Linked DNA regions of Homo sapiens: region 1 is linked to region 2. Evidence: fine-mapped expression QTL. Tissue or cell type: tibial nerve. Region 2 holds a variant in brackets; the other region holds the start of a gene. All regions are shown on one strand. Distances are between the middles of the regions.

Region 1 (4,000 bases), 57 kb after region 2:
GGCACCAAGTAGCACCAGTGCCCAAGAAAGAAATCAGTATGATGGGGTAAGATGGGGAGATGAGGAAACCCTTCAGCTCACAGTTATGCAGGAAGTCAGAAACAGGAGGACTCGGGGAGCGAGCCAAGCAGTGTCTGGACTAAATGCAGACACCCCTCCATCCTCTCTCTCTAGTTGCCCTTCCCAACTCCCCACTCACATAATGAAACCAAGGAGTACATCCATTCATCAGCCCTGCTGCCTTCCAATTCTCATAGAAAATAGAGGAAGGATGAAAGGGTCTGCGGACAATTTGGAGAAAGCATATCTAGTCAGTGTCATGGTGCCATGGGGGAACTGCAGGAATCACACTAGCCCCAATGCCCAAAATGACAGGGAAGTGATCCAATTTTAGGGCAAGCTCTGGAGCTCCCAGATCTAAGGGCTGGAGCACTAATTATCTGCTGACACACAGCCCACCCCCGGCCCCAGCCCATTCCCTGCCTCACACTCAGAAAACAGGATAGAAAGCTTAAACAGGGTCAGTCTCTGCAAGCTTTGGGATCCTTAACCCTTAGTAGCCCTTCAGAACAAGAAAGTAGACAGGGGAGAAGGATGGATGGAGGGAGGGGGACGAGCTGTAGGAGGGGATTGGTGCCAGAAGGCAGGGATAAGGAGCGGCAGCTGCAGAGAGTGGTGGGGGAAAAACTACAAGGAAAGAAGGGAGGAAAGACGATTGCAGATCTAAGAAAGCAGCAGAGGGAAACAAGCTTTTACTGCGTCCAGACTCAGGCTTCAACATTTTAGGATCAATATGACTTTCCCCCATTTCATACCAATGGAGAAACTGAGGCTGAGTGAGATTAAATGGCTTGTGCAGGGTCAGGTCTGTAGAGCCCAGTCTCTTTCCCCTAAACCACAAACCTCTGAGAAAGAATAAAGCAGTAGAGGAGGACAGGGCGGGGCAGAATCAGGGGACAGTTAAAGGATGTGCATAGGACAAGGAGTAGCCACACTACCTGATTTTCAGAAAGCAAGGGCAAAGGCCGGGGAGGGCCGAGGGCGCCAGGCTTCTCTCTGCTCCCAGCCCTAGTCAACCACAAGGGTCTCCTGGCTGTAGGGGATGGATTTCTCGTGCATCTGTTCTCCACCCTTGCCCATGTTGGGGCCGGGCCCCTGGCTGTGCCCCGAAGAGTAGCTGGCTGACTTCTCCCCACTGCTGCTGTGGGAGGTGCCTGCGCACCTGCTCTGGCCACAGCAGAGCATGGAGGTGCAGGCCTGGCGGAAGCGGGGGTCGAAAAAGGCATAGAGGAAGGGGTTGAGGCAGCTGTTGACGTAGCTGATGCAGGTGCAGTAGGGGAAGATGTTCATGAGGAAGAGGTCAAAGTCACAGGGCCAGTGCAGCAGGCTGCCCAGCATGTACAGCGTCTTCACCAGGTGGTAGGGCATCCAGCACAGGGCAAAGGTCACCACCAGCACCACGATGATGCTGAGCAGCCGGCGCCGCTTCCGCAGGCCCTCGATGCGTTCCTTGCGGAAGTGGCCAGCGATGGTTTGGGCGATGAAGAAGTAACAGGTCAGCATGATGGTGAAGGGCACCACAAAGCCCACGGTGGTGGACGAGACCCCAAGGCCCACCTCCCAGGCCCACTCTGAGCTCACAGTGGCCACCATGGAGTAGTCCATGTAGCACTGCACCTTAGTGGTGTTCTCCAAGTCCCCGGTGGTGCGTAACACCATGACAGGCATGGCCAGGAGGGCGGCCAGCACCCAAAGAACTGCCGTGGCCACGGCCCCGCTGACCCGCAGCCTCAGCCGAGCATTGGCCACTGGCCTCACGATGGCCAGGTAGCGGTCGAAGCTGAGGCCGGTGAGGCAGAAGACGCTGGCGTACATGTTGACGAAGATGAGGTAGCTGCTGAGCTTGCAGAAGAAGGTCCCAAAGGGCCAGTCATAGTCCCGGTACGTGTAGGTAGCCCACAGGGGCAGCGTCACCACGAAGGTCAGGTCAGCCACCGCCAGGCTAGCAATGAAGATATCAGCTGAGCGCCTCTTCTCCCGGCTGCTCCGAAACACGGTCCAGAGCACCAGACCGTTGCCCGTGGTGCCCAGGAGGAAGACCAACATGTAGATGGCAGGGATGAGGGCCCCCGAGGATTTCCAGTCTGTGTACTCACACTCAGACTGGTTGTCTGCCCCATAGTAGTTGTCAAAATCACCACCTTCCTCCATGCTGGGGAGTGGAGAGAAGACGGGCAGAGGGTCCCAGGGACACCAGCTCCGTGGCTCTGTCACCCACTCTGCAAGCAGCCTGAATTTCTGGCTTGAGCCTCAGAGAGTAAGAAGGGCTGAAGATGCCCAGAGTCCTTCCCAGCACTCAGGAGGAGCTGCCTCTGGGTTCTCCAGACCCTGGAGGAAGCCTGTCTCCTGCAGAATTTCCTCCACCCTCTCTTGCCTTACCCCCGTCTCAGTTAAGACACTTCCTTGCACCCTCCTGCGTCCCTGTCTCCTCCTTGACTCGTCACTCCCTCCTCCCACCTCCAGACCAGCCCCTCTCTTGTGAGTCAAAATCTTTAGTGACAGCCCACTTTTTTTTTCTTTTTGTCACTGAGCAAGTGGACCAAATTGACCCCTACTGTGCTGGGCTGAACATTATCTGTGGTTTTGCAAGTCGGCTTTCCTGGCCCCGCCTCTCCTTTCTGGCTGCCACCCACCTTCACCCCAGCCCCTATCCCTCCACTTTCCTCTGGCCACCACTTCCTGCCTGCCCTTTAGGGCACTCCCTCCTCAGTGCTCTCCGCCCTCCTGTTCTCACCCCCTTCCATCCAATCTAAATGGGACACATTATGCAGATTGCAATCCAGCTTGAGCTGGAGCCAGGGCTGGTAGGGAGCAAGGAGGGTGTAAGATTTCGCAGGATGGGCAGGGCATCTGGCAGGTCCTCCTGGCAGGCAGGTCTGGCCCCCTCGGCTCCCTTCCTGCACCCCCAGCCCCCACCCAGACCAGGTGTCACAGGAGGGTCTTCTCCCACTTTGCCTCTCGCTTCATCTTTCTCTACCCCTTGGCTTTGACCCTCCCTCTGAGAACTTTTGTGGTTTCTAGAGAAATACCCCTACACTAGTGTAGACTGCAGTTTGCAGTTTGCGGAAGGCACAGGATGCTTTAGAAGGTTGAGGGCAGTCACAGGATGGAAGAAACCCAGGACAAAATTATCTCTAAACAAGTCATTAAATCTGTAGGAAACAAAGGCCCAACAAGGTCAATGTTTTGCCCAAGGTAATAAAGTGAATTATGCTACAGTTGATTGTTTGCTTTTCTTCTTCTCCAAACACGAACATAATACAGTACCTGGCATGTCGTAGGTGAATGGCTGTTTTGTTTGTTTGTTTGTTTGTTGAGACAGAGTTTCACTCTTGTTGCCCAGGCTGGTCTAGGCTCACTGCAACTTCTGCCTCCTGGGTTCAAGCGATTCTCCCGCCTCAGCCTCCCTAGTAGCTGGGATTGCAGGCTAATTTTTTTGTATTTTTAGTAGAGATGGGGATTGACCAGGCTAGTCTCAAACTCCTGACCTCAGATGATCCACCCACCTCGGCCTCCCAAAGTGCTGAAATTACAGGCATGAGCCACCACGCCCAGCCAGGTGAATGGCTGTTGAGTGAGTAAGTGGATGGATGATGTAGGAGGTGAGTGAAAAGGGGAATCCATAGATGGAAGAACAAGTGTAAGAATTACTACGTGGTGAGAACATGGATACATTTCAGTTCTCAGGTTTTTACTATCCTCCATGGACCAAGAGGTTTCTGTAAGACCACAGGGGGTCAGGAAGTTGAGCTAGAGGAGGGGGGTCTCTAGAGAAAGACTCAGTCACTGGAGGATACTGTGGGGAAAGTTCCGTAGACGCTCACTTTGCCCCAGCTCATCACCTCTCCAGGACCTCTAGGAAGGAAGGAAGATGCACGACGTAAGATTTTTTTTAAAAAATACGCACCCTTTCCACAACCTTGAAGAGTTGGGGAAGCCA
Region 2 (4,316 bases):
TAACTCAGTGTTTCTCAAACTTATTTAAGAACCTCATGGCACACAGTGTACCTTGGGACGCCAATTTGGGATTCATAGAAACCCATAATGATTTGTAAAATGATTAAAGGTGGTATAAAGTCACGTAAAATATTTCTGTCTCATTGAACCTCACTTCTACAGAAGATATATGCAATGACAATGTTCTTGAATTAGGGGTTTCTGAAGGTTTTGCAACTCATTTGCACAGGAATACATTCAAATCATCTGCAAATGTAATATTTTCCTTTCTTAACTTCTTACTTTTTGAGCAATTTATTTGTTTTTCTTTCTCCATAACTGTTTTAGAGATTTTATATTCTGCTGTTTGTTTATTTTACTTTGTTTTATTTGTTCATTTGACAAAGCCATCTGTACAGTGTTCTAAGTGCTTTATTTATAATGGCTCATATATCTAGCAACCCTGTGACTTAGGCGTCATTATCCCTACTTCAAAGGTCAGAAAACTGAGTTTCAAACGGTGATGAGGCATCTTACCTAGATCCTATTTTTTAAGGAACACAGTAACTAATGTTTTCCTTTAGTTATATTATTAATTCTAATTTTAAATATAAACTTCGTATCATGTAAAGAAAGAAAATCTTCATGAGTTACCTTTAGTCAACACTAAATATTGAACTATGCTGGATAGCTTTTTTAGCCTCCATTCAGATAATTATGTTTTCTACCATTTTTCCATAGGATGCTAGCTTTACTTTCCGGAGGCCAACAGTCCTCAGTTAGAATAGATTACTTGTTTCATTGTGTTGCGTTTTCTGGGTTAAGATTAATATTTTACTTCTAAACTCATAAGTGAGATTAAACAAACATTCCTTTTTTTAAGCAGGGAGTGAAATCTCATTTACCTCAGTCAACTCAATATACAAATATTTATGGAGTGGCTGCCATGTTACTCTGTGCCAGAGACTGTAGAACATGAAAGATTCAAAATGAGCATCTGAGAGAACACAGAAGGGAACTGACTTTCTACAAGCATATAGCAAAAAGAATCATGTTAGAGAAGACAACAACCATGATTTTAAGAACTTTATAAATGCCCAGAATCTGTATAACTTCACACTTGTTATTTTCTATTACTCCATTTTGGATCCCCCAAAGACCTAAGCTCTTACTTAAATGCGAGAGGCCCCAGGTCAACCAAATGAAGCAGCTCCATGAGGGAGGAGTCTATGTCCATCTTGTCGCCCACCATCTGGCCAAGTACCCAGCATACAGTGAATGCTCAATAAATATTTATTAAGCAAAGAAATAAGTCAGCTCTTTGAGCAAACCAACCGGTCAAGACAATTTTTAAAATGCAGGACAGCTAGAGACTTGTTTAATGGGTGAGCAAGAAAACAGGTATTGCACAAATTTCATCCTCATCTGAAGTCACTCCAAGGAAGCTTGGAAGCATGGGAACAAGACAACAGACAGAATCCCTTAGGCCTGGAGAAAGAAGAAAGGATCACAAGCTTCCTTTCCCCTTAACAGACCCAAGTGTCTGTAGAGCCCCAGGTGCCCCCACCTGGCCAAGTAGTTGGCCTTTTGGACCCCAAAAGTTCTCATATCCCAAGCCAAGGGGAAATTGGTCTACTCCAGCCAAGCCTCCTAGCCCCAGAAAGCCCATGGGGTCAGGACTTAGGGACAATCAGGGAACATATAAAAGGTCTTTCCTGCAATAATGGTCCCTAACAAGCCCTGAGCCAATCACCTGGTAGCTGGAGCCCAAAATACCTTCCAACCCAGGTAAGTAGATATTATATGGTGACTACAAAGATATATCCCATCAAGTGAGCAAACTTATCATATTCACATCCCTTTTTTGTTTCCATTCCTATTCATGTTTTCAATGTCCCCATTCTTCACTCGCCCCATCCCCCACTAAGTCCCTTTCTCCATTCATTGCAAGCCCTCTTAGTTTTTTCTTCTGGATCTGATGCCCTTAAGCCATCCCTCCTCT[G/A]TCTCCGATTCCAGGTCCACACCTTGCCCCTACTACGACCTCTCCCACTGGGCCCTGCCTGATCCTCTTTCTCTGCCCCTGTCCAGTTGCCCACCCTTGTCTCCCCCTCTTCTCCTCGCTCTATCCCCAGGATCCTGTGGGCGGCTGTGAATTTTGCCCTGTGCTTCCTTCTCTCCTCTCTCTTTGTGGTGGGGTCCACAGCCAGTTCTCCTGTTGCTCAAAAATGTGGAGGCAGTTGCTAAGAGACAGCGAAACGTCAGTACCTGGCCCTCGAGGAAAAAAAAGGGGAGTGAAAAAGGGAGAGAACTGGGGGAGGGATGGAGGGAGGGAGAGAGAGAGGGTGGGAAGGGGGGAGGGAGGGGGAAGACCTGGCTCTGGCGGAAGCCTTATACCCCAGCAGCCTGGGCACCAGCTGAGTTTCAGAAAGAAGCATTCAGATTCTGTGAACTTTCTTCCGAGCATCCTGTCTCTGTGATTTCCCTTTGGGTGAAAGAAGGGGCAGGGGGACCGCAGGACGGGAAATCATAGAAGATGCTGGCCTGGGATCCGGGAGACAAGGAGGAGGAGAGGCCGGGGGAGGGGAACAGCCTGGGAGGCAATCTGTTCTGAAGCAAGCAAGGAGCAAGCGGGGATTCCAGGAGGAGGGAGGGAGACCCGCGTCTGCCGCAGATTGATGGCTGTGTCCTTGGAACGGAGTGAGTAGGCTCCTGGGGCCTGTGGGAGTGCGAGGGGGAGACCTGGGGCTTAGAAAAATGAGTCTGCATGAAGGGGAGCTGGGGTGATTTCCAGGTGGGCGGGATTGAGGCTTGAAGCGGTAGGAAAATAGGCAGCGCCAGGCCGAGGGTGAGGGGAGGACCGAGGACAGCAGGTGGGCAAGGGAGAAGCGAGAGGGCGCGGGGCGCGAGGGCTGAGGCTCTGGGCGTGGCATCACTCTCGGTCCCTCTGCTGGGGGCGGCGAGGAGAGTGCAGTGTGTGGAAAGGGATGCTGGGATGAAGGGTGTGCGCTGAGAGGGGGGCGAAAGATGCTGGGGGTCGACTGGGGAGGGGTCTGCAGAATCGCCTGTGCAGAAGGAAGCTGGAGCGAAAACCGCGAGGCGTGAGCACGGGGCAGGGCAAAATACGGGGGAGTCACAGAATGGTGTGTGAGTGAGTGTGTGTGTGTGCGTGTGAGAGAGAGAGGAGTGCTTAGAGTGTTTGAAAGGGGTGTGCAAACCCCCAGAGTGTGGATGCAGATTTTTCTTAGGGAGTTGTTCAAGGGTGGCGTGTTTGGTACTAATGAGGGTGGGGTTATGAGAAGAAGAAGAAAATGCATCTAACCCAAGACAGGAACCCAGAGGAGGATGGCTGCAGGTTGGGTCAGGGAGGGCTCGTGGGTAACAGCAATGTGAGCCTGGGGTCTGAACCTACCATGGCCCACACCTGACAGACAGTAAGCAGAGAACTTTGTGGTTGGGGGAGCAAAGGAAAGAGACAAAGATAAGCCAAGCGTCCTAGGTGAAGGGACAAGGGAGTGTCAAGGGCACAGGATTTCTCTGCCTGAGTGCTTTCCTTGTTGACAGAGGGAATTTGGCCTCCACCTGCTGAACACAGAACTGCGCTGAGGAAGGCACTGGCTTGGAGAAGATGCCAGAGCTCTGCCAGCTGACACTCAGCCTGCACCTTCAGGACTCATGACTTCTTCTGGCCCCAGAGGCCCAGACAGTGGGCATCACCTGGGGTCCTCCTCTCTTTGGGAAAAAAAGAGGCTTCCTGGGGATTCCAGCAGCCACTGAGGCTGAGGACTCTCAGGCTTTTAGGAGGCCCATGGAGACTCACTTCCTCCCGGGCCCTTTTCCCAAAACACCCACCCTGGGACCCCCTTGGACTCCAGCCCACCAGGCCACCAGGACAAATGGCCTCTGAGACCTTCAACACTGAAGACCCAGGTGCAGCCCCGGCTTCCTAATCAGTCCCAGACGTGGGACAGGACTTAAGTTTTCTCAGAAGAAGTGCCAAGGATCTTTAAAGGGCACGTTTCATCTCCTTCAGCCCCTCCCTCCCAGACACAGCACCAAGAGGAAACATCCAGCAGGCATGGGTGAGAGAGACACAAAAGATCTGCAGGAACTCTTCCAGGACTTGCTGGCAGCTGACCTAGCCCCATTCTTGTCCCCTCCCTTTCTCAGGTTTTGATCATCATTCCAGACCCTAGGGGACCTCAACTGGGTGTCTTGCCCCCTAGGCTCCGGAAGGGGACCTCCCGTGGATCTCAGGAAGCCCTCTGGTGCTCAGAGGCTCCTGGGAAAGTCCCTAGCCATGATACCACATGCTCAGAAGCCCCACCTTCACAGACGCT

Direction of the effects. Positions count from the first base shown, and alleles are read on the strand shown. Sizes are in standard deviations (SD) of each study's normalised expression.
With allele A in place of G in region 2, the expression in tibial nerve of the gene that starts at base 2,457 in region 1 is lower (small effect, 0.33 SD a copy in GTEx).

What was found. PIP is the estimated chance that this variant, and not a neighbour inherited with it, causes the effect. A credible set is the group of variants that fine-mapping cannot tell apart.
Region 1: it holds the start of APLNR, and the variant in region 2 is the best candidate, but not a certain one, in a credible set for the expression of APLNR in tibial nerve (GTEx, PIP 0.69).

Annotation. Positions count from the first base shown.
Region 1 is chr11:57,234,794-57,238,793 of GRCh38, forward strand. APLNR (apelin receptor) reads right to left here and starts at 2,457. Exons shown (of 1, transcript NM_005161.6): 1 at 1-2,457. The coding sequence starts at 2,211. The coding sequence ends at 1,069. RefSeq lists an enhancer at 2,099-2,731.
Region 2 is chr11:57,177,608-57,181,923 of GRCh38, forward strand. The region is part of intron 4 of LOC105369309 (a long non-coding RNA gene); the gene reads right to left. Among named protein-coding and RNA genes, the nearest start is that of LRRC55, 2.2 kb to the right of the region's middle. The variant G/A (reference allele first, on the strand shown) is at 1,982.